Linked DNA regions of Homo sapiens: regions 2, 3, 4, 5 and 6 are each linked to region 1. Evidence: fine-mapped expression QTL. A gene starts in region 1. Each other region holds a variant in brackets. All regions are shown on one strand. Distances are from middle to middle. Region 1 holds the start of BIN3 (bridging integrator 3). Region 2 overlaps BIN3 (bridging integrator 3). Region 3 overlaps PEBP4 (phosphatidylethanolamine binding protein 4). Region 4 overlaps CCAR2 (cell cycle and apoptosis regulator 2). Region 5 overlaps CCAR2 (cell cycle and apoptosis regulator 2). Region 6 overlaps SORBS3 (sorbin and SH3 domain containing 3).

What was found. PIP is the estimated chance that this variant, and not a neighbour inherited with it, causes the effect.
Region 2: its variant is fine-mapped to the expression of BIN3 in whole blood (INTERVAL, PIP above 0.99). The same link has a PIP of 0.9 or more in blood mononuclear cells.
Region 3: its variant is fine-mapped to the expression of BIN3 in putamen (GTEx, PIP 0.95).
Region 4: its variant is fine-mapped to the expression of BIN3 in whole blood (TOPMed, PIP above 0.99).
Region 5: its variant is fine-mapped to the expression of BIN3 in whole blood (TOPMed, PIP above 0.99). The same link has a PIP of 0.9 or more in adrenal gland, aorta, atrial appendage, caudate, cerebral cortex and esophagus mucosa.
Region 6: its variant is fine-mapped to the expression of BIN3 in whole blood (INTERVAL, PIP 0.98).

What each region holds. Positions count from the first base shown.
Region 1 is chr8:22,666,925-22,671,025 of GRCh38, forward strand. BIN3 (bridging integrator 3) reads right to left here and starts at 2,197. Exons shown (of 9, transcript NM_018688.6): 1 at 2,120-2,197. The coding sequence starts at 2,127. RefSeq lists a silencer at 1,897-2,056 and enhancers at 1,920-2,549, 2,307-2,366.
Region 2 is chr8:22,632,741-22,636,841 of GRCh38, forward strand. It overlaps BIN3 (bridging integrator 3), which reads right to left. Exons shown (of 9, transcript NM_018688.6): 4 at 3,785-3,846. Among named protein-coding and RNA genes, the nearest start is that of BIN3-IT1, 7.4 kb to the right of the region's middle. The variant C/T (reference allele first, on the strand shown) is at 1,674.
Region 3 is chr8:22,787,984-22,792,084 of GRCh38, forward strand. The region is part of intron 4 of PEBP4 (phosphatidylethanolamine binding protein 4); the gene reads right to left. Among named protein-coding and RNA genes, the nearest start is that of PEBP4-AS1, 88 kb to the right of the region's middle. The variant G/A (reference allele first, on the strand shown) is at 2,387.
Region 4 is chr8:22,613,281-22,617,280 of GRCh38, forward strand. It overlaps CCAR2 (cell cycle and apoptosis regulator 2), which reads left to right. Exons shown (of 21, transcript NM_001393997.1): 9 at 812-1,034; 10 at 1,110-1,223; 11 at 1,558-1,721; 12 at 2,145-2,316; 13 at 2,402-2,632; 14 at 2,732-2,968. Among named protein-coding and RNA genes, the nearest start is that of CCAR2, 11 kb to the left of the region's middle. The variant T/C (reference allele first, on the strand shown) is at 2,431.
Region 5 is chr8:22,618,586-22,622,686 of GRCh38, forward strand. CCAR2 (cell cycle and apoptosis regulator 2) reads left to right here. Exons shown (of 21, transcript NM_001393997.1): 18 at 32-143; 19 at 242-430; 20 at 565-770; 21 at 1,053-1,886. The coding sequence ends at 1,097. It overlaps BIN3 (bridging integrator 3), which reads right to left. Exons shown (of 9, transcript NM_018688.6): 9 at 1,833-2,983. The coding sequence ends at 2,837. Among named protein-coding and RNA genes, the nearest start is that of CCAR2, 16 kb to the left of the region's middle. The variant T/C (reference allele first, on the strand shown) is at 1,709.
Region 6 is chr8:22,568,227-22,572,327 of GRCh38, forward strand. SORBS3 (sorbin and SH3 domain containing 3) reads left to right here. Exons shown (of 21, transcript NM_005775.5): 17 at 922-1,047; 18 at 2,684-2,995; 19 at 3,492-3,595. Among named protein-coding and RNA genes, the nearest start is that of PDLIM2, 10 kb to the right of the region's middle. RefSeq lists an enhancer at 3,654-4,101. The variant C/T (reference allele first, on the strand shown) is at 1,959.

The DNA.
Region 1 (4,101 bases):
TTCATTCTGGGGGCAGGAAAACCACTCAGGGAGTGAATCAGAAGGACCCAGCCCCGGTCTCCTTGCCAGCCATTGAGCTAGGAACTGAGTGTGATTGTGTGCCCAGGCGCCGGTGCTGTTCCCGTCTTTGAGAGACAGGGTCAGGGTCCACGCAAGAGATGACGTAGAAGCCCTTTAAGGGGGAAGAGAAAGGAATCTCAGCTTTGAGGGACAAAGCCACCCTTCTGGCTGTGACTCTCAGTCCAAGGAGATACCAAGATGTGCATGTACTGGTAAATTAAAGCTACTAGATGAAAATCTCAGCTCTTGTTAGACAGTTGTCAATCTCAATTCTCTCCAACCTGACAGGATAACCTTTAAGGAATGGGCTACTATTTTTTCAGAAGGGAAACTTTCTGTGAGACAGGTGGAAACAACCTGCTTCGGATCACCCAGAGAATCATTTACCTTTATTAGTTTCTGCTGTGCTCTTCTCCCAACTTGTGAAGGAAAGATTGGTTCAGTAAAGGCCAATCTAGGCAATATAAAGCATCTGTACTGCCTCATTTTCACTTTGAAAAATTAGGTAAGAACACTCCAAAGATTCAAGACGCAGCAGCCAAAAGGATATCTATATTGCAAGACTGGGGGGCCCAGAATGACACTGAAAGGACGTAATTCCTCTGGGAAAGGGAACTGAAGAATTGCCGCTTTGCCCACCACTAACTAGGTTATAACAAGACAGGGAAGGTAGCTTTTTAAGGCTCCAGCCCCTTATTGGCCTCCTGGAGCAAATGGTGGAGGGAAAAGCAGAAGCTCCTGCCGGGGCTTATTAGGACATTGCTTCAGGCTTTCCTCCCGTGCTTGCGGTGATTGTCTGACATTTGTCCATCAATCTTGGTCTAAGAAACAGGTGGGGGAGGGGACAGATGGTTCGCATTTTACTTTAGAGAAGTATCCCTGACACTGACTGATATCAGCTGCTTGCGTTCTCCACTGATGGCCAAAATTAAGCTTCAAAAGCCTTCCTGAAGGACATTCTGTTATCTTAATTCATTCATAACTGGTTATCATGCGCTTTGCATAAACAAACACACTAGCCTCTGAGGACAGAGTGGCAAATATGTTCCCTATGTCCATGGGCTGATTAATCTTGTACATCTCTGGGGCTCAATTTATTCACACACTATAGTTGAATCCCCTGAGGTCCAGGGTTGTGGCTATATAGGTCCTTGGGCCTGACGGTAAGGTAAGGTGCTGCATATGAGTATTCTCTAACCTCTAAGAAAGCCCCAGGAAGGCAGGCAAGTCACAATTCTCTCCTGTGAACATAAATAATCGAGAGCAACAAATGGGGATTGCCTTTTGGGCAAACTGAGTCTTACAAAATAAATACACCATTATGAAGTGTCTACTATGACCCAAGTATCACATCATACTGCAGCAACTGGAATTGTGACTCTATTACTCTAAGACTCCCTGGCTTCTTTTCTCATGGCATGATAGTTCCCATAAGTTTAAACTTAACCATGCCTATTTAGAGGGCAGGCAGTGAGTAATAGCTCTGGAATGATTAAAACCAGTCCAATCCCACAGTGGAAGGGTGTGTGCGGAGTGTAATTCTGGCCCCTTTAAAAAGAGAAGCAAGTTTTCCTTGTCTTTTGAAGCCTGCTAAGTCGTGCAAAGAGGATAGTTACCCAGAAGGGAGTGGGTTTTGATTAGTGAACTGGGTCCAGGCTGCCACAGCGAGGGCCACAGCTCTGGAGGGACTGGCGCGGGGCAGAGATGCCCACAGGAGAGAAAGACGACACTGACTCCACCTCAATGGGTGTTTAAAAAAGGAGGGAACAAGGAAGTCCCTCACTTCAAGGAGCTAGGAGGACGCGAGTCCGGCAAAACGGGTCAGACGCGGAGTCCCAGGCTAAGAGGATCATCCGCCACTCTCCCCGGGAGTCCTGCTGAGAGACTGCGACTCCGGAAAGCACCGAGGGAACGACCCTAGGGCAGGGGCTGTCGGGCCTTGCTCTGGGGCGGAGGGGTCGCGCGGGACCGGAGGGAGCCGGGACGCGGCACTGACACAGGGCCAGGGGCCTCGCGGGTCCGCGGGTCCAGCAGCTCCCGCCGCCTGGGCCTCACTCACCAGCTCATGGTCCCGAACCTGCGTCTGCCGCCGGGGTCCTCAGCCACAACTCGTTTCTCTAGGGTCACTTCCGGATTCAACCAGTCTCCAGGAAGTGACGTAAGCCCGCCTCTCTGCCCGGAAGAGGCGGTTGGGAGGCGGAGCCCGGCGCGTTAACCCTTCTGCTGCTGCGTGCTCGCCGCGGAGTTTCCCTTGCCGGCGACTCTCTGGCTCTGGCCAAGCGCTTAGACACACAGGCTGCAACGGGGGATGAGGGGAACCTCTGGGGGCGTTTTCTGCCTTCAACACTGACTCCTAAAGATCTCTTCACCTGACCATGCAGGGCCCTTAGCCGGGCTGTCCCCTCTGTCAAGTGGTTTCTAATCCAGAGACAGTGGCAGCAATTGTCTGTGGGAGAAGAAGCCATTTGGGATGGAGAAAGTGGAAAACTTACATTCTCTGAATGCTCTTTCCTATCTTTTACAGTTTGTACACCACACATGCATTACCTGTTACAAACAAACGGACGTTTCCCTTCCAAGATGGCACAGGGCTCTGAATATCAATAGATAGGTGCTTTTCAGGTTGGAATGTTTCCTAGAGTTATTCAACACAATAAGACGCAGAGTATGAGTTGTTCCCTGCCTTTCAGCCCTTCCCTTTGGTCTCCTCTACAGGACTCAAATGATGTAAATTGCCCCATTCGTTCTATTCCTTCATTTAACTAATACTAGTTGCACTAATATTAGTGTCAGGTACCGAGCCAACCTTAGGATACAGCTATCTCAGAGAAGTATCTGCCCTGCTCTTGTTCCTTCCCAGAGCTACTTTCCTGGAGGGAGAGACAAGCAGGCAATTATAATCATGCTATAGGATAGGATAGAATGAGGTGTGGTGGCAGCCTAGAAGGGGACCCTGAAGTAGCACATGGGGTTTTGGGGAAGGCTTCCAGGAGGAGCCAGTGTGTAAGCCAAGCCCTGAAGGCAGAATCGGGGCTAGCCAGGTGAATCTGAGATGAGGGGTGACGAGGCTCCAGGCAGAGGGAACTTACCATGGCTAAGACACAGACAGGACCAAGCAAGCAGCTGACTTGCCTCGGGTCTCCCAAAGTCAGAATTCAGGGCCTTAGTGGCTCACAAGTTGCCTGGGATTCTGGGCCGACTTGGTTTCCTCACCGCTAAGTACCTCCCTGCCTTGGAAGAGAGACAAGAAGGCAGTGAGGCCCGTGCAGGTGCTGCTGGGCCCCCAGTGACCTTCTCTCTAGGAATTCTCCTTCCTCAGATGGACCGGGATTGTTTCAGGGACTGCTTAGGGGGTTGCTAATCAATGACCTAGCGGGAAAAATATGACCAATGACCTAGAGCAGAAGTAGTGTATGATTTGTTTTGACCTCCTAGGGTGGAGTAGAGGGCTTGAGCAGGAGAGGTAGGAGGGTGGGCCACAGGATGCAGTCTCTCATTTGTGTTTTCTGTTTCCATTCTTGAGAGTCCATAGTTTGACTCAATTGACGTTTCCAATGGAGGTTGGATCCCCAAGCACATCATGCAGATCAGCTTCATTACCATGTTGTTCCTCAGGAAACAGGCCAAAATGAGCACAAGAGCAGCCTTGAAGAGTAAAGAGGAAGAGCAGAAGTCACCAAAGGGTAGCCTGGGCAGAGAGTGTGGGTAAAGGGAAAGAGAGAGTCCTTGCTGCTTTGCAGAGAGTGTGACGGATGGAAGGGCTGTTGTGGGTTTAGGAGCCTCCTGGCAGTTAGCACCTGTGAATAGTTTTCCCACCTGCTTCCTCCCTTCCCCATGTTCTGCCTCCCTCAGTTATGCCCCACAGGGATAAATATTTCCAAACGTTTTAGCCTAGGTAACTGCTATATCCTAGTAGAAGTCTGTTTCAGGGCTGGAGGGCAGCAGACACATCCTAGAGGACTAGAATGGATAAGTTCTGGACTACAAGTCTGGAGGAGTCTGCGGCTCTATTTCCAGTTCAACCTTTGACACTATAACTGA
Region 2 (4,101 bases), 34 kb before region 1:
GTCACCCAGGCTGGATGGAGTGCAATGGCATCATCTCGGCTCACTGCATCCTCCGCCTCCTGGCTTCAAGTGATTCTCCTGCCTCAGCCTCTCAAGTAGCTGGGATTACAGGTGCCTGCCATCACACCCACCTAATTTTTGTATTTTTAGTAGAGACGGGGTTTCACCATGTTGGCCAGGCTGGTCTCGAACTCCTGACCTCAGGTGATCTACCTGCCTTTGCCTGCCAAAGTGCTGGGATTACAGGTGTGAGCCACTGCGCCCAGCCCAGCTGCATTTTCCCCTTTCTTTCCTAAAGCTCTTGCATTGTCAGGAAGTCAAGGAACTGAGTGGGCTCAGTGGCCGGCCCTGGGCAGAACTGGGTCTGGAATCCCCGCCCAGTGATGCCCCCGCTTCATGTGAGCAGAGCAGAGCTGGGGTAGATGACACCAAGAACACCATGGTCTTGGCTGGGCGTAGTGGCTCATGCCTGTAATCCCTGTGCTTTGGGAAGCTGAAGCAGGAGGATCCCTTGAGCCCAGGAGTTCGAGACCAGCCTGGATGACACAGTGTGACTCTGTTCCCCCTCAACAAAAATAAACAGCAGGTCTCCATGCCCCTCTGGACCTGTGGTCCCTGCCCCAGCCCATACCCCTCATTGTTCCCTGCAGGGACTGGGAGAGGGGCACAGTCAGCCTGGCCCACACCAGGAGGCTGGTGATCTTTGAACCTTAGAGAAAGTGAGGGTCTTGGACCCCACCCGGGTCTCTGGAGTCCTGATGCGGCCTCTGGAATGTAAGATTCAAAGATTCACCAGAGCACTCTGAAAGTAGTATGAGTTTCTGAAAGAAAGGTCATCTTTTTTAGAATAACTGGGGATTTTCCACCTTGCTGGGGGAGCGCAGGAGATTCCACGCTCAGGAAAAGCATCCCTCCATTCCCCTCAACTGTCCAGATCAGTGGAGCTCACAGTGTGGGCCTCAGCATCACCTGGGAACTCCAGGGACACACATTTTCAGGTCTCGCCCAGCTCATGAGTTAGTTGGAGGCTGGAGGTGGGGCCCAGCGGCCCACGGCACAGCAAGCCCGCCTACAACACTGATGCCCCGTACATGAGACTGATGTGGCTGTCAGGCTCGCCTTGGCCCCATGACCACCACCACCGCTCTTCAGAGGCACTGTCTCTGCCCACATCCATTCCTGACTGAGGACAGTAGTGTTAGGCTTCTGCAGTTACCCATTCAACTCTGGTTTCTCTGCTGGGAAACTAAGCTTTCCACAGCCATGGACGGTGCGTCACGGACCCCTGATGCCCTCCTTGGTTCCGTAGCAAGCCACTGTGAACACAGCACACCCTGGCTTCGTTTATGCTCTGACAATGCAGCTGTCTGCAGAAGCAGGAAGGAAAGGAAGCAATGGCTCACAGCAGCTCCCGAACTGGAAAGGCAGTGGGGACCGATCAAGAAAAATGCGACCCAAGTAACTCAGACCTGAAATAACTACAAAACAAACAACTGCAGACAAACTCCCAAATCCAGTCCTTGGCTTGTGACACACATAGTTTGGCAACGCTAGAGGCCAGGAGCAAGGTGCATGTTCAGACCAGCCCACGGCCCAGGAATTAGCACTGGCATGAAAATTCATGGCACAGACCAAGACGGCCACAGTCCCTGCACAGGCAGTCAGCGCTCACC[C/T]GGGCATGGTGGTGGTGACGGCGGCTCCCAGGGAAGGAACGCTTTCCTTTTGTGATCAGTGCTTTGTAGGAAAGGTGTGTTTACACATCAGTAACTGGCTGAGGCTTAGGAGCTGGCATAAAATGGGAACAAATTCAAATCACTGCCTCTATTGGGACATTTCAAGGGTTTTCCTCGTAACTGCAGTACCAAGTAGGAGCACACTGGTCCTCAAGTCCCACCCGTAGGTGCCCACTGCCCTGTGGCCCTTTGAATGGTGTCAGGAGACAGTGAGGCCGCCCCATTTGCACTAGGCTCACAGACAGCCAAGCAAAGAGTGGATGGGCAACGGTTCCGGAGTGGGGGCTGTTTCGGTCACCTTCTAGTTTGGTGGCGGGCACGGGGGTGGGCAAAGGAATGAGTGGGGCATGGGGAGGCTTCGCTGTGGAGACAAGGCCCTGGACTTGGAGAAGAGGAGCTGAACTCTTCCTCCTTTATCAAATGGACATGCCCATTTATAAAATGGGTGTGTCATGTGCCCTGCCAATCTCAAGGTCAGAAAAGCTCAGGGAGGTGAAATTTCTTCACAGCCATAACATGGCATTATTCAGCAGCTGGAGTGGCCGAGGGGACTGAAGATGGCTTCTCCACCCTCCTGCTGCCTCTCCTGCATCTCTGGTCAGCGTGCACCACCTTAGGGCCTCCGCGCTTGCTGTCCACTGTGTTTCAGGCCCTCTTCCCTTGGCTCTACCTGTGTGGGTTATTCATTCCTTCAGGACTCTGCCCAGGGATCACGTCCCCACGAAGGCCTCCCTTGACCCTGTCACTCTCCACCTCCTTATTTTTATTGACCTTGCACGCCACGACGTGTCATTATATACCGATCCGCTTGTGGACCTCTTGCAGGTCTTCCTCCTAGAACGTAAGCTCCCATCTTGTCTTGCTGTTGAGTCTCTAGTGCTGAGAGTGCCTGGTGCACGTGGGTTCTCGGTCAGCATCTGCTGAGTGAGAGGAAGTGGGCAGTCCTGGCCATACCCAAGTCTCTTTCAGGTCCTCGTCCCAGTGTGGTATATAGACACGGCTTCCCCACTGGACCCAGGGAAGGAGCTGCAGGAGTCCACCCAGTCAGGGAGGCTTGCTGCCGACCATGACGACGGTGATGACAGGAGCGGACACCCCGAGAGCTGACCCGTGCCAGGCCCTGTTCTCAGTGCTTTACGTTGCTCATCCAACTTCATCTTCAGCAACAGCCTGTGCCACTCGGATTGGCGTTACCTGTGCTTCTCGGGTGACGGAACTGAGGTAGAGCTAAGTCAGCTGTCCAGAGCTGCGCAGGGAGTGCTGAAGCTATTGATCAACCTTTGGTCAAGTGCTTGCTGCTCCGGGGTGGGAAAGTCAAGGCCTTGGAGAAAGAACCTCAAGGAATGGTCTCCATCTCTCCCGGCTGCTCGTCGCCTCCTTCCTGGGACATGGCCTGCAGCAAGGGCTCTGGATGCTCCCTTATTCCCGACCTGCTTGTGTCTCTAGGCTCCCAGGCCTGGTTCCTCCTTGTTTCAAACAAGAGCTCTCCAGCCAAGAAACCTCCCCAAGGGCCCTGGCTGTTTCCCAGCACCTGCTGGCCCCCACTTCCCAAGGACCTCCCGGTGCCCTTTGTCATCATAGAATTATCTGGGGTATTTCTGGCCTTACACTTTAACCCAACCTCCTGTTTAAACACATGACAGCTTCCATTCTTGTTGCCACTGGAGCGCCTGTCCCAGCAGGCCACGGAGTCTCGTTTCTGCGGGAAGGAATGTGCTTCCCTTTCCCTCTGGACAGCCTGAGCCGGTGGCCAGGATTCTGAGGCAATGGAGGCATCTGCTACCAGAAGCTTCCACCAGCTGCTGTACTGTCCTGACTGGAGTCCCAGGAGAGCCTTGCCCCAGCACCCACATCCAGAGTGGGGCAGTGCGAGCTCTGTGCAAAGTGGGATGTGACTGGTGAGGAGTGACTGCCCTGAGGCTGCTTCTCAGGACACTGGGTACACGTCCTCTGAGCGCAGCAACTTCAGAGCCCTTGGGGGGCTGAGAGAGGAGGGTGCCCACCTCTGCCCCACCTGCTCAAGCGAGTGGTGCGGGTGGAAAGTCACCTACCCAGGTCTGCGTCGGTGCTCTTCTTCATGTCTTTCTGCAGCCTCCGGGTCTGCTCTTCCAGCCTGCAAGGCAGGGGACGGGCTGCTTGGGGTCCCCTTCCTTCCCCCTACCTGAGCGAAGCCCAGGTGCTCTGGAGGGCCTGCCAAGGAGGAGGAGAAAGGGATCTTCTCCACGGGGACTTTTCCCGCTGACTGAAGTGCCACTACACCCAAAGGCTATGAGTGAATGACTCTCACATGGCCATTGCCAGGGAACAGTTCCAGCAGCCTGGTGACCTGAGCTGCCCTCAGCTTCCAGGGTGCTCACGGGGCAGGGCA
Region 3 (4,101 bases), 120 kb after region 1:
GAGGCGTGCAACGGGCCCACAGGCTTGGAGCTCTGGCAGAGGAAAAGTGGGTGTGGCTGGAGGCTTCAGGGATGCACGGGCTCATCCTGGGAACATATGAAGGGAAGGGGGATGCTGGGAGAACCAGGAGCAGCAGGCAGGAAGCCAGGTAGAGGGAGGGAACCTGGGAAGGATGTTGAGAAGGACTGGCCAAAAGGGCAGGTGGCAGTGGGATCCAGGTAGCTGAAAGATGAAGGGGTTTCAAAATGGGAGAGGGCTTCTAACTATCACCGAGAAACCCCTGGGACAAGAACTGCATGTTTCCATCAGAAAGTGGCTGCCAGGGGGACAAAGAAGGAGCAGGGAAAGACGAATGAGAAGAGAAGAGGGAGAAATGGCAAGTGCAGCCTGCTCTTAGGCGGAAGCCGTGTGGCTATGAGGGCCCATGAGAGGTGACGCAGGGAGGGAAGGCCCTAGAAGCCCTGAGTTATGGCAGTGGGGACCGAGGTTGGCAGGCTGGGGCACAAGCAGGGTCCTGGCGGTGTTCAGAGTCTCACCCATACTGCGAGGAGTACCCAGGACAAATACCTACACGTGTCCCATCCTGGGCCTCGGTTTCCTCATCTGTAAACTGGAGAGGCTGGACCACAGCCTTGCTAGGTCTCTTTTCAACTCTAAAATATGACTGTCCTGATGGTTATTCATATGCTATGAATTCTAAATTGATACAAGGATTCTACATTGATAGAAATTCTAAATTCTGGATGGCATTTTAGTTAACATGTACCAAAAAGCCTTTGAATATGCAAAACCTTTGACCTCTGAGAATTTATTCTCAGAAAGTCACCACAGAGGTGAATGAAGAGTTGTGTATTCACAACTTTGTTCATTGTAGCGTTGGTGATAATATAAAAAAAAAGCAGATACAACCTAATGTCCAATAGTAGAGGATTGGCTGAGTAAATTATAGTACATCCATATGGTAAACTACTTCTGCACTAAAAATCATGGTTTAGAAGATTATGTGTTGACATGGGAAAATGTTAATGATATATTGCTAAGTAAGAAAGCAGGCTACATTGCAGAATGTACAGTATGATACATTCATTTTCAAAATTTTTGATTAGGACACAGACCAAATCTTTAATTAATGTCATTTTTTTTCTTTTCTTGGCAAGCAAGAAGAGTATTATCTAGAATATTGTAACTAAAAAATGAAACAGAAAGACAGTTATACACTAAGTGTGTTCACAGGAATTTTTAAGTCATTAGGATGGAGAGTAGGCTGTCAGTGAGTCAAGGAAGCGGAGAAATTCTGAAACTATAGAATTTTAGAAGCGGAAATCACCCCTAGAGATCGTCGGGCCCAACCTCGCTTTTTTTGAGACGAAGAAATTCAAGCTCCTAGGGAAGTCTAGACAGTGACTAGTCAGAGATGGGGGTGGGTGCCAGCCTGAAACTAGGGTCGTCCAACCTTCAGTTTATGCTGGTACGTTTGCCACCCCTCAGAGAGACCCCGCTGATACTTAAGAGGTGACTCTATTCCTAAGCCCCCTGAGGTGGGGCTGTGGGCTCCTCCCTTCCTCCCAGCCTCTGAAGACCTATGCAGCTCAAAGCTGCTCTAGGCCACAGGAAAGTACCTGGGCCCACTGCAGAGCTCTGGGGCAACGTCTGCAGCAGCATGGGGGTCCTTTGCGAGCTGATCCAGTGCCCCAAAGGGAAATCAGTCTCTGGGTGGCCCAGAGCTAGGCTTCACTGTCTTCTTAAGAAATGGATGCTCACCTTGTCAAACACTTTTGTGACAGACATGATTCTCCTTCCTCCAGAAAAAATTCCTCTCCGCCTCCCACTCTGCTAACCCTCCAATGCAAAGACAGCACTTCATTTTTACCGAGTTCAACATCTTCGGGGACAGGTGCAACGGGCAGATGCCCTGTAGTCCATGTTGATTTGGTAATTCTGTAGCACTCTTTCTGATGCAAGAGAGAGGGTGTTGGGCCTGGCCTTCCAGGATGGGGAGTCCAATGCCTCTTCTCTGGCCCCATGGCCCGCTGACCCCCATGGCCGCTCCGTCATCCCTCTCCTGGGCCACTGAATAGCCTGCTAGCAGATCTCCCTGCTCCTCCCCATCAACCCTCTCTAAGTCTCAGCACCAGAGCTGTGGTCTTTATTTCATATGCCTGTTAACTTCCTTTTGTCATCCTTCAACCATTGCATGGGCTGTTTGATGATTCTTTCCTTCCTTCCTTCCTTCATTCACTCATTTATTTATTCATCACATGTGCAGGCAGAGAGCTAGGTGCAGTTTTGCCCTCAAGGAGGTCACAGTCCAGAGTGGGGGCAGAGACCCTTAGAACCAATTATCCTCAGGCCATGTGGAAGCACCTCCTGAGGGGGTAGATACAGG[G/A]ATTCAAGGGATGACGAGGGCCCTGATGGCTGAGGTAGACCAGGAAGCCTGCTTACATCGGTGGGATTTGAACCGTGCCTTGGCATACCGGTGGGGGAAGAGGGGCACGGAAGAGGAAGACATCCCAGACAAGGCCCCTAAGCATGGCAACAGCTTAGCAGGGGCAGAAAACACCAGGGATATCTCGGCCTTGCTGGGGCTGGTTGGGATGATGGGATCACGTGGGGTGGAGGGGGAAATAAAAGCTGGGCTGGGGCCTGACCTTGAAGGGTCTTGTGGCTACCTTTGAAGGCTCAGTGTTCTAGTTCCGAATTTGTACATTTTACAGGCTTCTGGAGAAATGAAGAGTTGGCTCCTTTCTCAGCAAACAGACGGGGTTTAATTGCTGTTACTGTCAGTGTAGTTGCAAATATCATATAAAAAGGGCTTTTTGGCTAATTGTTTTTAGAAGAAAAATTCAAGAACTATGTATAGATATTATGCATCCAGGGTACTTTAAAGATCAAACTGTTTATATTACCCTTAAATACAGTCTTTAGCAGGCGGCACTGGGCTCTGTGAGTAACTGGGACACACGATGACCCCCCAGGGCTTAAGATGCTGGAACAATATGACAGCAGTTACTTTATTTCTGAGGGGAGGTGGGGGTGGTCAGCCACTACCCTTTGATAGGCCAGAAGACCAGATGAATAGAGATCTAAGCTGGGTAATGTTGCTGCACCATTGCCCTAAAGGGCTGCCTCTTCACGCAGGCAACCAACCTCCCCACCCCAGACACACACAGAAAGAACTGGATTCCACGGGCTTCTGGGGGTGCAAGGGGAAGGGGCTGCCATATCTAGTGGGCTCCTGGAGAAGCTCGGGCTGAGGAGCAGAGAAGGGAGCAGCCTCAGAGCTTCTCATCTTGTCTCCGGTCCTGCAGTCTTCTTTCCTCACCCGCAAATGGTAGAGAGAGGAGTTTTGAGCCGTACAAATAAAGCAAATTCATATCTGCTCATTGCCATCCTGTCCTCATGCTCAACCCTCTCTCAAATTTTAATTTGGTAGCTTTTAGAAAGGCAAATTTATTTGTGACACCATCCAAATTCTATTTTATTGGAATCCTCTTCTCCAAGGGTGCGATCGACTACCGAGAAAGCTGTGGGCTTCTCCTTTTGATATTTTCCCAAGCTCTCTGTGCGTTCGCGCGTGCTTGTGTGTGCGCGCACACGCATGCACATTCATTTTAGGGTCCTCTACATATTTTACGTACAAACACATAATGCATATTCACAAGGCAGCCGCGGAAGTGTAGATATATTCATCACATATATGTGTAACTCAGTGCAGACTCCTAGAAGCCAATATTTAAGTTATCATATTTAATTTATTCAACAAACATTTAATAAGCACTTACTCTTCATTAAACACTGTCCTAGGCCCTGAGTGTACAGCAATAAACAAGTCAGACAAAGCCTGTGCACTAGGGGGCTAACATTTAAAAGCACTGGATTCTTTTTTTTTTTTAGACAGGGTCTCAATCTGTCTCCCAGGCTGGACTGCAGTGGTGTGATCATGGCTCACTGCAGCCTTGAACTCCTAGACTCAAGTGATCCTCCTGCCTCAGCCTCTAGAGTAGCTGGGACTACAGGCACACACCACCACGCCTGGCTAAGAACTTTTTTTTTTTTGTAGAGACAGGGTCTCACTATGTTGCCCAGGCTGGTCTGGAATTC
Region 4 (4,000 bases), 54 kb before region 1:
ACTGTTTGGTGGTTTGCCTTTTCACTGAATGTACTTTAGATTTTATTTCGTATGAACATTTATTAGATCTAGTTCTTTTTTTTTTTTTTTTTTTTTAGCAACTACACAGTATTCATTGAATGGATGAACATGATTTATTTACCCAGTTCTCCATTTGCACTCTATCCTAAATTTTCTTGGAATGAACATCCTTCTACCTACACCTGTGTGTTTGTTGCGATCAATTTCTAGAAATGGAGCAGCTGGCTCAAAGGCTTTGCTTTAAGCTTCCATAGCTATTGCCAGTTCTCCTGAAGAGGCTGTGCCCCTTCTGCTCTAACCAGTGGGGTGTGGAGACCTTATTTCCCCGTGCCGTTGCCAACACTGTTAGCCGACTTTTTCATCTTTGTCTGTCTAGTTGGTGACACATGATAATGTGGTTTGCATTTCTTTAATTGTAAGTGAGATTGAGCATATTTTCCTGGCCTCTAATTCTTATGTATTTCTCTTAAGAACCTATTGATGTCAATTTTCCGTTTTAGGCTTTTGAACTTTTTGTTACTGATTTGTGAGTTCCTTTATATTAAGGCAATGACCCATTTCTCTGTCATGTGTTATAAGTGTTTTCTTTTTTCCCTTTCCCAGTTTGACTTTTGCCATCTAGAGTTTGTAAATTAAGTGGTCAGATCTGATCTAGCTTCCTTGAGAGGTGCCTTACTTCAAAAGTTCTCAGACTGAAAAAAAATTCGCCCATTTTTTCAAATCTTTGATGGTTTCATTTCGAATGTTTTAGTCTTTGCTCAGTCTGGATTCCCTTGCTGTCTTCCTGTAGCCCCATCTGTGACTTCCTAGAACTCCAGCGCCGTTACCGCAGCCTCCTGGTCCCCTCAGATTTTCTGTCCGTGCATCTGAGTTGGCTATCAGCCTTCCCCCTGAGCCAGCCCTTTTCCCTCCATCATCCAAGCCGGATCCAGGTCTCTTCTGAAAAGGAGGCAGCTCCAGACGCTGGTGCTGAGCCCATCACTGCAGACAGTGACCCCGCTTATAGTTCGAAGGTAAGCTGACAGGCGTCTCTCACTTATCTGATTTCTGGAGGCTGAAGGCAGCTCTGAGTGTCTCCTCCTGCACAGGTACTGCTGCTCTCTTCCCCGGGGTTGGAGGAATTGTATCGTTGTTGCATGCTCTTTGTGGATGACATGGCTGAGCCAAGGGAGACGCCAGAGCATCCTCTGAAGCAGATTAAGGTAAGAGCTGGAGAGCAGGAGGAGATGCATTCACGGGTAATGTGCACAACCTGTCATGTTTTGAGTGTTCGGCTCCTGTTCCTGAATGCATAAAACGAGGCATCTCAGAGCCGAACACCCCTCATTTCACCCAGGAGGAAGGTGCAGCTCAGAGCTGTTACGACTAGTCAGAGAGAGCGAGGTGGCTGGTTCATGTTTGCAGATAGAGACCTCACTGTGTGGTGGACTTCCCCACTTCCGGCTGCCTTCATCCTGATGGGTGGCAGCCTTGCCCTGCAGTGGGAGACCCAGGTAATGTAGTTTTTTGTTTTGTATCCCTGATCTCTTCTTGCAGTTTTTGCTGGGCAGGAAAGAAGAGGAGGCAGTGCTGGTTGGGGGTGAATGGTCTCCTTCCCTGGATGGCCTCGACCCCCAGGCTGACCCGCAGGTGCTGGTGCGTACCGCCATCCGCTGTGCGCAGGCCCAGACTGGCATTGATTTGAGCGGCTGTACCAAGTGGTGAGTGGGCTTCCTGAGCCTCAGCTGCACCAACGCACCAGGTTGGGGAGGTTTTGTTGGGAAGGCCCGGTCCCTGCCCCTTTCTGCTGGTTAGCTCTCTGCCCCCTAGTCCCGTTCCTTCCCCCTCTGGTGCCTCAGGGTAGGGTGGGGTGTATGCCAAAATCTGGCTGAGCCACCAGGCTGCACTTGAGACTCCCTGGAGTTGTCCTTGCACCTTGTAGGGTGCTTGTGTGGTTGCGGCCTCCCCACTGACTGATCATTTCTTGAGGACTTGGTCTGTAGCTTTCCTGTTGTGTCTTCAAAGCTTGGTTCGCAGTGTGTGCTCATTGAGTGCTGACTGGAAACTGAAGCCCTTGCCTGTGAACGTGGTGTCTGCGTGGAGTTGTCACTAAAGAAGTTAGTACCTCCTTTTGCCATGTGCAGGTGGCGCTTTGCCGAGTTTCAGTACCTGCAGCCGGGACCCCCCCGGCGGCTTCAGACAGTGGTGGTGTACCTGCCGGATGTCTGGACCATCATGCCTACTTTGGAGGAGTGGGAGGCCCTGTGCCAGCAGAAAGCTGCAGAGGCAGCTCCCCCAACCCAGGAGGCACAAGGGGTAAGGCTGTGCCTTAGCCAGCAGCGGGGGATATAGGTGGCCTAATCCCGGGACCCAGAGGGTCTCATTTCAGCTGTTGTCACAGGAAACGGAGCCTACTGAACAGGCACCTGA[T/C]GCCTTGGAGCAAGCAGCAGACACTTCTAGACGGAACGCAGAAACTCCAGAGGCCACCACACAGCAGGAAACGGACACTGATCTCCCAGAGGCCCCTCCACCCCCCCTAGAACCTGCTGTCATCGCACGCCCTGGCTGTGTAAACCTGTCCCTCCATGGGATTGTGGAGGATCGGAGGCCAAAGGAAAGGATCTCTTTTGAGGCAGGTGTCAAGAGTCTTGGGGAGGCTGTGGGCTGGGATTTGTGGGCCTGAAGCAGTCTTTCTTCCTGATGCTCATGGACCCTCCCACCTCCCCATCAGGTGATGGTGCTGGCCGAGCTGTTTCTGGAGATGCTCCAGAGGGATTTTGGCTATAGAGTTTATAAGATGCTACTGAGCCTTCCTGAAAAGGTCGTGTCCCCACCTGAACCTGAGAAGGAGGAGGCGGCCAAGGAAGAAGCCACCAAGGAGGAAGAAGCCATCAAAGAGGAGGTGGTCAAGGAGCCCAAGGATGAGGCACAGAATGAGGGCCCGGCTACAGAGTCAGAGGCCCCGCTGGTGAGTACCCTGCCACCTCGGGCTGTCATAGTGCTTACCGTGACCGCGCACCTTTACCCCGGGCTCTGTTCCGAGCGCTTCCTGTGCCTTAGCTCATTCCCTGCACCCTTGCTCGGCATGGACTGAGGCCGCACAGCTAGTAAGTAGCACACCTAGTGCAAGGGAAGGTGGCGCAGAGTGCAGGGAGCATGGCTGAGCAGCCTGACAGCACAGAAACCCTTGTCACTGAGAACGCTTGGCAGAGTGGGGTGCTTTGATTGCCTGATGGTTAACTAGAAAATTTTGTAGGCCGGGCGCTGTAGCTCACCCCTGTAATCCCAGCACTTTGGGAGACCGAGGTGGGCAGATCATGAGGTCAGGAGTTTGAGACCAGCCTGGCCAATATAGTGAAACGCCGTCTCTACTAAAAATACAAAAATTAGCCGGGTGTGGTGGTGCATGCCTGTTTTCTCAGCTACTCGGGAGGCTGAGGCAGGAGAATCGCTTGAACCCGGGAGGCGGAGGTTGCAGTGAGCCGAGGTCGCGCCACTGCAGTCCAGCCTGGGCGAGAGAGTAAGACTCTCTGTCTCAAAAAAGAAAAAAAAAGATTTGTAAACCTTTTCTAAAATACTAGTCTGCTTTTTTTTTTTTTTTTTTTTTTTTTTTTTTGGGGAGATGGAGTCTTGCTCTGTCACCCAGGCTGAAGTGCAGTGGCGCAACCTCGGCTCACTGCAACCTCTGCCTCCCAGGTTCAAACGATTCTCCTGCCTCAGCCTCTCTCCAGTAGGTGGGATTACAGGCACCTACCACCATGCCCAGCTAATTTTTGTAGAGATGGGGTTTCACCATGTTGGCCTGGCTGGTCTTGAACTCCTGACCTCAGGAGTGCTGGGATTACAGGTGTGAGCCACCATGGCCAGCTGCTGCTTGTTTAAATACTATCAATCAAATGAATGTAATTTCTTCTGGGACCAAGATCAACTCCTGAGGAAAAAAGCCCAGGTGTCTGGCGATGCCCTGGCATGCTCTGAATCCCACTTAATGAAATTAAAT
Region 5 (4,101 bases), 48 kb before region 1:
GCCTTCTGATCAGCAGATGTGTTTTCTGCAGGCCAAGCAGCTGGTCAGCAGGGTGGTGACCCAGAACATCTGCCAGTACCGGAGCCTTCAGTACAGCCGCCAGGAGGGCCTGGATGGTGGCCTTCCCGAGGAGGTGCTCTTCGGTATGTTCTGGGGCCCTGCAGCCTTCCTGGGGCACGGGCAGGGCAGGCTGCCCTCTCTGGAGACTCCATCCTGAATTCTTTTTCACGGTTCTCTCTAGGAAACCTGGACCTGCTGCCCCCTCCTGGGAAAAGCACGAAGCCAGGTGCTGCCCCCACAGAACACAAAGCCTTGGTGTCCCACAATGGCAGCCTGATTAACGTGGGGAGCCTGCTGCAGCGCGCGGAGCAGCAGGACAGCGGCCGGCTCTACCTAGAGAACAAGATCCACACACTGGAGCTGAAGCTGGGTGAGGGCCTGGGGCTGCAGCCACCATGGGGTCACATGCAGACCAGTAGGGAACCTGCTGCTTAGGCTCAGGCCCTGCCCTGTGCTCTGGGCCTTGATGGAGCAGCCGTCCCCGTTTCCTTCTCCACCTTGCAGAGGAGAGCCATAACCGTTTCTCAGCCACTGAAGTAACCAATAAGACGCTGGCGGCAGAGATGCAGGAGCTGCGAGTCCGGCTGGCGGAGGCCGAGGAGACCGCCCGGACGGCGGAGCGACAGAAGAGCCAGCTCCAGCGGCTGCTGCAGGAGCTCCGCAGGCGTCTGACCCCCCTGCAGCTGGAGATCCAGCGGGTGGTGGAAAAGGTAAGGTGGGGGTGGACCAGGAGGCAGCACAGCTCCTTTCCCTGAGCTCCAAAAGTCCCCAGAAGGGCGCTTGCCCGTGTCGGGAGTGACCAGAGGGCCAGCAGGCACCGGCTTCGTCTTTCCATCGCTTGCCAGGCAGTGTGCCCCTGGTTGCAGGTTCTCTGGGAATTGAGCAGTCAGCAGCGTGCAGTGGGAGCTTCCCAGCAGGAGGCAGTCCGCAGTCCGCAGTCCTCAGATCACCTTGCCAGGCCCGATTCTGGGTACATCATCTGTTTCAAACAGGCTGACAGCTGGGTGGAGAAGGAGGAGCCGGCACCTAGCAACTGACGGCCTCGCACGGAACTGCCATCCTGTGAGGGCAGCGGTGGCGCCCGGCAAAGTTGGAGCCCTTGCGGTACCAGAAAGCAGCGAGAGCGAGACCTGGGAGCCAGGGCAGGGGTGGCTGACCCCATGCTCAGCCTCTAGGGGACGGCAGGCCATCAGGCTGGGGGCTGTGCTATGTGGGATGGATGTGTGAGGAACCCCGGTTCCACTTAACAACTAAATACAACATCTTTTGCACCCCTAGAATGTCATTTTGCCCTCAACCTTGGTATTTCTCCTGGGGCCCTTTTAGTCTTGTGCTGACTTTCTCCTGTCCTCTTCCAGTTTAGAATAAGACAGGGGAGAAAAAGGCTTTTCGAGTGTGGGACAAGGTCTGATGTCAGTGAACGGAACTGAAGAGCAAGACATGGAGCCTGGCTGGGGCTAAGCAGCCCCCTCCTCCGGATGGCACAGGCTCTGCTAGGTTCCGGACACAGGCTTCTGGGGGAAGGGTCTCCCTTGGCCATCACGGGAATGGAGTCCATGCTAGAAAGAGCTCAGTGTTGGGCTGGGTTTGCCAGTAGAACACTGCGTTCCAGTCACCCCGGTCTTGCCAGAAGAAACCAGCACCTCTT[T/C]CCCGTGGCTCCTGTGTTCAGAATGTGGTATTGGCTCTGGCCCAGCCTTCTCCCCTGTTACCCATAATTCTTGCCTCTTTCCATAATCCGTGGTTTCAGTTTGACTTTGTATATAAAGTTGGGGTTTTTTTTTTTTTTTTTTGGCTTGTTTTTTAAATAAACCAAAGTCAAAAACAAACTGAGAGTGTGTCCTCCACAGCTCTTCCTACTCTCCTAGGCTTGCCCGCGTGCCCTCCCACCCAGCGCCTCTGCTGGACCACGGTGCAGTTCGCTCCAGAAGGTGGGCCAGGGCCGGGGAGGTGCGCACACACCCCTGGCATGCTGGGCTGCCTGCTGGAGGGTGCTGCTGCTCCGTGGAGGGCAGCAGGCCCAGGAAGGGGTTTCCTCTGCTCGCCTAAGTTACAGCACAATACTATGTGGACGTTTCATTGAAAATTTTACTTGAAAAAATAAAATTCCAGATACTCAGGTGAGACACAAACCCACTGTTCCTGCTTTGAGACCTGTGAATTCTTGTGGGACAGTTCCACTGACAGCTTGCGTTCCCGAGGTACCAGTCCTCAGTGACCTCGGGAACCCCAACCACTTAGGTCCCAAAGCCACAAGGGTGCCCTTTGTCTTGCTGGGAAGCTGGCTGAGGGCCTGCCAGGGCTGGAGGACCAGCTCTCCCGCACAGGGTTCAGGGCCTCTCCCAGAAAAAAGAGGTTTTGAAGTGAAAAGGCAACGAGGGGCCAGAGGGCTCCCCAGGATGGGTCTTTTGGAGGTAGATTTGATGCCCACAACGCATGCAAGGCTAAGACCCCCAACTTAGCCAACGAAGCCCATGGCCTCAGAAGGGCTGCAGCTTGCTCAGGCCGTGGGCCAGGATGCATGCTGGACGGTTCTCCAAATAAAAAAGCCCCAAGGGTTTGTCTACACTGCTTACCTGCTGGGGCTGTGAGTGGGGAGACGGCGGCCTGCCTAGGGCTCCTGGTGCCAGGCTCAGGAAGAGTCATTCATTGCAAAGGGCCGGCAAGTGAACCAGGGCCACCTCTGTCCCCAGCCTGTGAGAGGAGCAGCTAGCCCTGAGAAGGGCAAGGATGAATGAGGCTGACCACGTCACAGGAGTCCTCCAAGAGTGACGGGGATTCAGTCATCGGCCACAATGGAGAGGGCCCGGAGCTCACTGAGTTTGGCCTCGTTCTCCCGCTCCCGCTGCTCATCGGAGTGGCCTGGCTGGTCAAGCTGATGGGACAGGTCTCCAAAGATCTTGTGCATTTCCGAGTAGTACACAACCTGGGGGAGGCGACAGGGGTTGGCACGTGCTGGCTCCAGGGAACCGTGTGCTTCAGGGGGCCAGAGGCTCACACTTCTCTGCTACCCCCTGCCCTTACCCATCTGGAGCTGTGCAGCAGCGTGCCTTTGGGGATATGCAGGGCACGGAAGGGCTCTAGCTGAGACTGAACCAAAAGGAGCCGGGGAGCAACAGGGCCTCAGTGGCTGGAGGTGGAGGCGCCCCTGCTTCGGGCTCCTGGTTCCCCCAGCAGCAGGTGCAGGAAGGCATGGGCCTCCTAGGGCGACTGTGGAATGATGGGCACCATGACTGGAGTTTTACTGCTTTTTGTAAGCTAGGGGAGAACCCAAGGCTTTTGTCCATGGCAGAAAGACAGCATGGTAGGCTGATGGCTCCCAAAGCCCTAAGCCAGCTTTAGAGGCACAGGCAAGAAAGGGGATGCCCGTCTAGCCTTCTGTTCCCTCCCAACTTGCATCCCACCCTTGCTCATGGCCCAAGCTGCGTGGCCAGGGGGACAGCTCAGAGGCCAGGTTCACTGCCAGGGTCCCTCTAGGGAGGCACCAGAAATGGTGTGGGAGGGGACACAGGGTTGAGGGTGGGGCAGGTGGAGGAATGGGGAAGCCCGTCAATTCTCCCAGATGGCTGAGGACCAGGGGCTTTTCCACAGACAATAGGGGCCACTTCTGCCTCAGTTTCTACCTCATGACCCAATGAAAGCATGCAGTTTCCTGAAAGCTTCCACGTTTCACTCTAGACATGAGGAGGAGCTCTAGACACTAAGGGGACCTTGTGGGAAATGCCAGGTGGGGCGGGGACCCACGGCTGATACTCCTGAGGCGAGATTTCCGCCGGCCGAGGGGGTGCTAAAGTGAGCTGGTCTCAACACACTGCTGTCACCTCTGGGCTGGCGGCGGCCCACCCTGCCCCCACTCCCTGCCCAAGCCACTGTGCGCTGAGTCACTGGGAATACTCACTTCTCCATGACTAATGGCAGCCGGGCGGGCGAGGGGGAGGCTGGGGCCCAAGAGGCAGTCAACAGCCCCCAGCAATGCTGCCTGGTTAAAGGGCATCCCTGGCCTCCCATCTGCTCCAACCTGGACACGCGGGAGCCTGGCACCCT
Region 6 (4,101 bases), 99 kb before region 1:
TGATCTTTGGATTTTATTCATGTTTTTCTCTCGTTTTTGTTTTCGATTTCATTGAGTTCTGCTTCTTATTTGCTTATTGTTGCTTGCTTTTGGTTTAATTTGTTATTTTTCTAAGTTTCTTAGGATGAAAGTTTAGACTATTGATTTGAAACATTTTTCCCTAGAATGCTGCTTTAACTGCATCTCACACATTTTGATTTTTCATCAACTCTTGACTGTTTTCTCATCTCGTCTGTGACTTCCTCTTTGACCCATGGGTTGGGTTGTTGTTTAATTCAGGCTCTTGTTTTGATAGGTATCATTAGGCCTCCCTTGCTTACACGATGATCCACTTGGTCCTGAAATTTCACAAAGTATATACAGTATTTCACTCCGCCAGTCGTTTCTATCTTTGTGTGAAATGGTTTATTGGCTGCTTGATTTTTATGGGCAGAGTGAAGCAAAGAGAACGTGAGGATTCTGGGCTCCGGCTGGGGTAGATGGGGAGGAAGAACCGAGACGCTGGAACCCAGGGACACCCGGTTCTCAGCAGTGAGAAAAGGGTGAATGCTCAGTTTTGGAACAGTTCCCCAAGTTCCCCTTGCTGCTTGGAACGCCTCATTTTCTTCTGTGGTCCAACTTAAACTCTCTAATTGGACTGGCTTCCATCTTTTCTCTTGGAGTTCTTCACTTCAGTAATGCCCACTCCATATATCCCTATGGAAAATTCTTCTTCCAGGGAGCGTTCCCAGACTCCTCCCCATCCTCCAGCACCCTTTGGCTGTGCCCACCCGTGGCTGCCCCCAGGGCTTGTGTCTGGTGTTTATATCTTTTCTCTGCCTAGGGGCGGGCCCACCTTCTCTTTGCTGTCTCACAGGAACCCCCAGCCTGTGCTATGTTGATGCCCAGGCCAAATCTTTCTCATGACCTTTCTTCATGCAGGTGCTGCCCGCAGATGAGATCCCTAAGCCCATCAAGCCCCCGACCTACCAGGTGCTGGAGTATGGAGAGGCTGTGGCCCAGTACACCTTCAAGGGGGACCTGGAGGTGGAGCTGTCCTTCCGCAAGGTGGGCCAGGCCGGAGACGGAGGGGTGGGTGGGGGCAGGTGAAGATGTAGGTAAATATGTGCACTAAAAACAGTTTTTTTTTTTTGAGACAGAGTCTCACTCTATCGCCAGGCTGTAGCGCAGTGGTGCCATCTCGGCTCACTGCAACCTCCGCCTCCCGGGTTCAAGCAATTCTCCTGCCTCAGCTTCCCGAGTAGCTGGGACTACAGGCACGCGCCACAACACCCAGCTAATTTTTGTATTTTTAGTAGAGACAGGGTTTCACGATGTTGGCCAGGATGGTCTCAGTCTCTTGACCTCATAATCCACCCGCCTCAGCCTCCTAAAGTGTTGGGATTACAGGCGTGAGCCACCGCGCCTGGCCTAAAAACACTTCTTTAAAAAAGAGTCCGATGTACCTAGCTTCACCCAGGATTTCAAAGTTTTCCCCAGTCTCTTTCATTATGCTTCCTTTAGTGTAGTGGCTTTTTTTTGCTTTTTTTTGAGACAGCATCTCACTATGTTGCCCGGGCTGACCTTGAACTCCTGGGCTCAAGCGATCCCCTGTCCCTGCCCCAGCCTCCCAAGTAATTTTGGTCCATTTTTAAAAGATCATCATAAACTTCTAGAGTTACATATATATTTTTTCAACTGCAGGTTGCAGGGGATCATACTCAGCATTTTTAAAGGTATAGACAGAAATGTTAGCATGCGTTGCGAGCAGAAAGCACTTTATCATACCGTAGGCAGTTCTGTGTATGCACATATATATGTATTCTGGGCTGTTATTAAAACATTTTTAACTGTAGATTGTGGTGAAACAAGTTTGAAAAATGCTGTTCTAGAAAGCAGGGAAGTGGTCTGCCTTTGGTTGATTTTGGGAGCAGTGATCATGCTCCCAAAATAAGCGAAAGACGGCCCATAGTGAATGC[C/T]TCCCAGAAGAGCTGGCCCCAGGGACAGAGGGGGAAGAAGGTGGCTGGATGGAGACAGATGGGGGCAGGAGAGGACAGGGGAAGGCAAGGGCTGGAGGCCACCCTCCCAGGGGGTGGTTCTACCTAATGTCAGCCAGCCTGTGGCCTTCAGGACTCCCTGCCTGTCCTGGGGAGTGTGTTTTTGACACGCTCATGACAAGGTCCCCCAGCGTGAGGCAGGAACAGGACCCAGGCAGGGCAGTAGTGGTAGCACCTGTCCAGTGTGTCTAAGGAGTGGACTGTTGATCTCGTTCACACCTCATAGTGACAGTATGGTTATTTTCACTTAACATAGGAGAAAACAAGGCTCAGAGAGACAGAGCAGGCTGCCTGAGGCCACACAGCTTGGCCTGGTGGAGCTGGGTTTGGATCTGTATTATTAGCCACGGGCTCACCTGTGATCGGAGCTCTGGGGAGGGACCTTGCTATGAACGCCGAAGGGGGATGCACACCCGTTGAGCTTCCAAGAGGCAGGACCCAGTCTCAGCCTCAGCCTTGCCTGGGCAGCCTGGGCTTGGCTCCTGGCTCCTGCTCTTACCGTGTGACTCGGGTAAACTGCTGGCCCCCTGCGATTCCGACCCCTCGTGTGTCCAAGGTGTTAGGGTTGAATGAGACAGCCCAGATAAGGCACCCGTGGGTCCATGGCACCAGGAAGGCCCCACAGACACTGACTTTTCCCCCCTCAGGGAGAGCACATCTGCCTGATCCGCAAGGTGAACGAGAACTGGTACGAGGGACGCATCACGGGCACGGGGCGCCAAGGCATATTCCCTGCCAGCTACGTGCAGGTGTCTCGTGAACCCCGGCTCCGGCTCTGTGACGACGGCCCCCAGCTCCCCACGTCTCCCCGCCTGACCGCTGCCGCCCGCTCAGCCCGTCACCCCAGCTCCCCCTCAGCCCTGCGCAGCCCAGCTGACCCCATCGACTTGGGGGGACAGACCTCCCCCCGTCGCACTGGCTTCTCCTTCCCCACCCAGGAGCCTAGACCCCAGACCCAGGTGAGGTAGCCTGCCTCCACCAGAGAGTCGACCTCCTCCTCACCCCTCATCCCCCACCCCCGTGACTTGTCCACACTTGGGACTCCTTCCCAGACAGCCCTGGGACATAGGAGTGGGGTGACAGGGCAGAAGCTAGTATGGCAGCCCCACCCTGGCCTGGGGGACCTCAACCTACCGAGCTCTAGCCGAGGGAGCTCTAGATGGAATCCCAAAGCCGGCCCAGGCTCCTGACCCTGGGTGTTCTTGGTTCATCCATGCTGGCGTCCAGAAACCCAGGCACTGACCTTACTTGGGCCTCAGTTTTCTGGCCCCTGTGAAATGAAATAGTCACAGCAGGTGTCCCTGTGCCCTGGGGGTTTGGAGGCTAAGATGAAGCCGTTTGTAAGGCGTGCTGGCAGGTGGACTGGGAACGCCCATTTTGGGCCTCCTCCCTCAGGCTTACATGTACCCATCGTCTTCCTCCCTCTGACATCCCTTTCTTCCTGTCAACTCCCAGAATCTTGGCACCCCTGGTCCAGCTCTGTCCCACTCTCGAGGTCCCAGCCATCCCCTGGACCTGGGGACCTCCTCTCCTAACACCTCTCAGATACACTGGACCCCGTGAGTACCATCTGAGGGCTCTTGATCAGACGTGGGGGGGGTCACTGGCAGGCAATGCCCCATATTCCACCCTCCCCCAAGTCCCCACCTGTGGATTTGGGAAACTTCTACCAGGTAGCCCTTGTCCTCGAAGAGCTTATGGTGATTTGGGGCAGGGAGGAGGCGCTGGTCTGTGATGTTCCCAATCCCTCCTGGCAGCTATGTGGCCTTGTGGCCTTGGTCTCCTCATTGGGTTTCTAGCCCTGAGGTCGGTGCATGTATAATTGAAGTGTGGAACTGGTGGAATGGACAGGAAGGCACCAGGTGCTCAGAGGAGGCGAGGGTTCAGTGCTTAGGGCCCAGAGGGCAGGAGGCAGGCCTGGGAAAGACTACGGTGAGCACAGGCTGAGTTGCTCTGAGGAGCTGGATCAGGGGCTAGTGAGAGCATGAAGGGACCCTGGGGCATTCACAGGAAGCGGCAACACTTGGGTTAGAGCCTCTGGGCCCATTCTCTGGTTGCCATGATA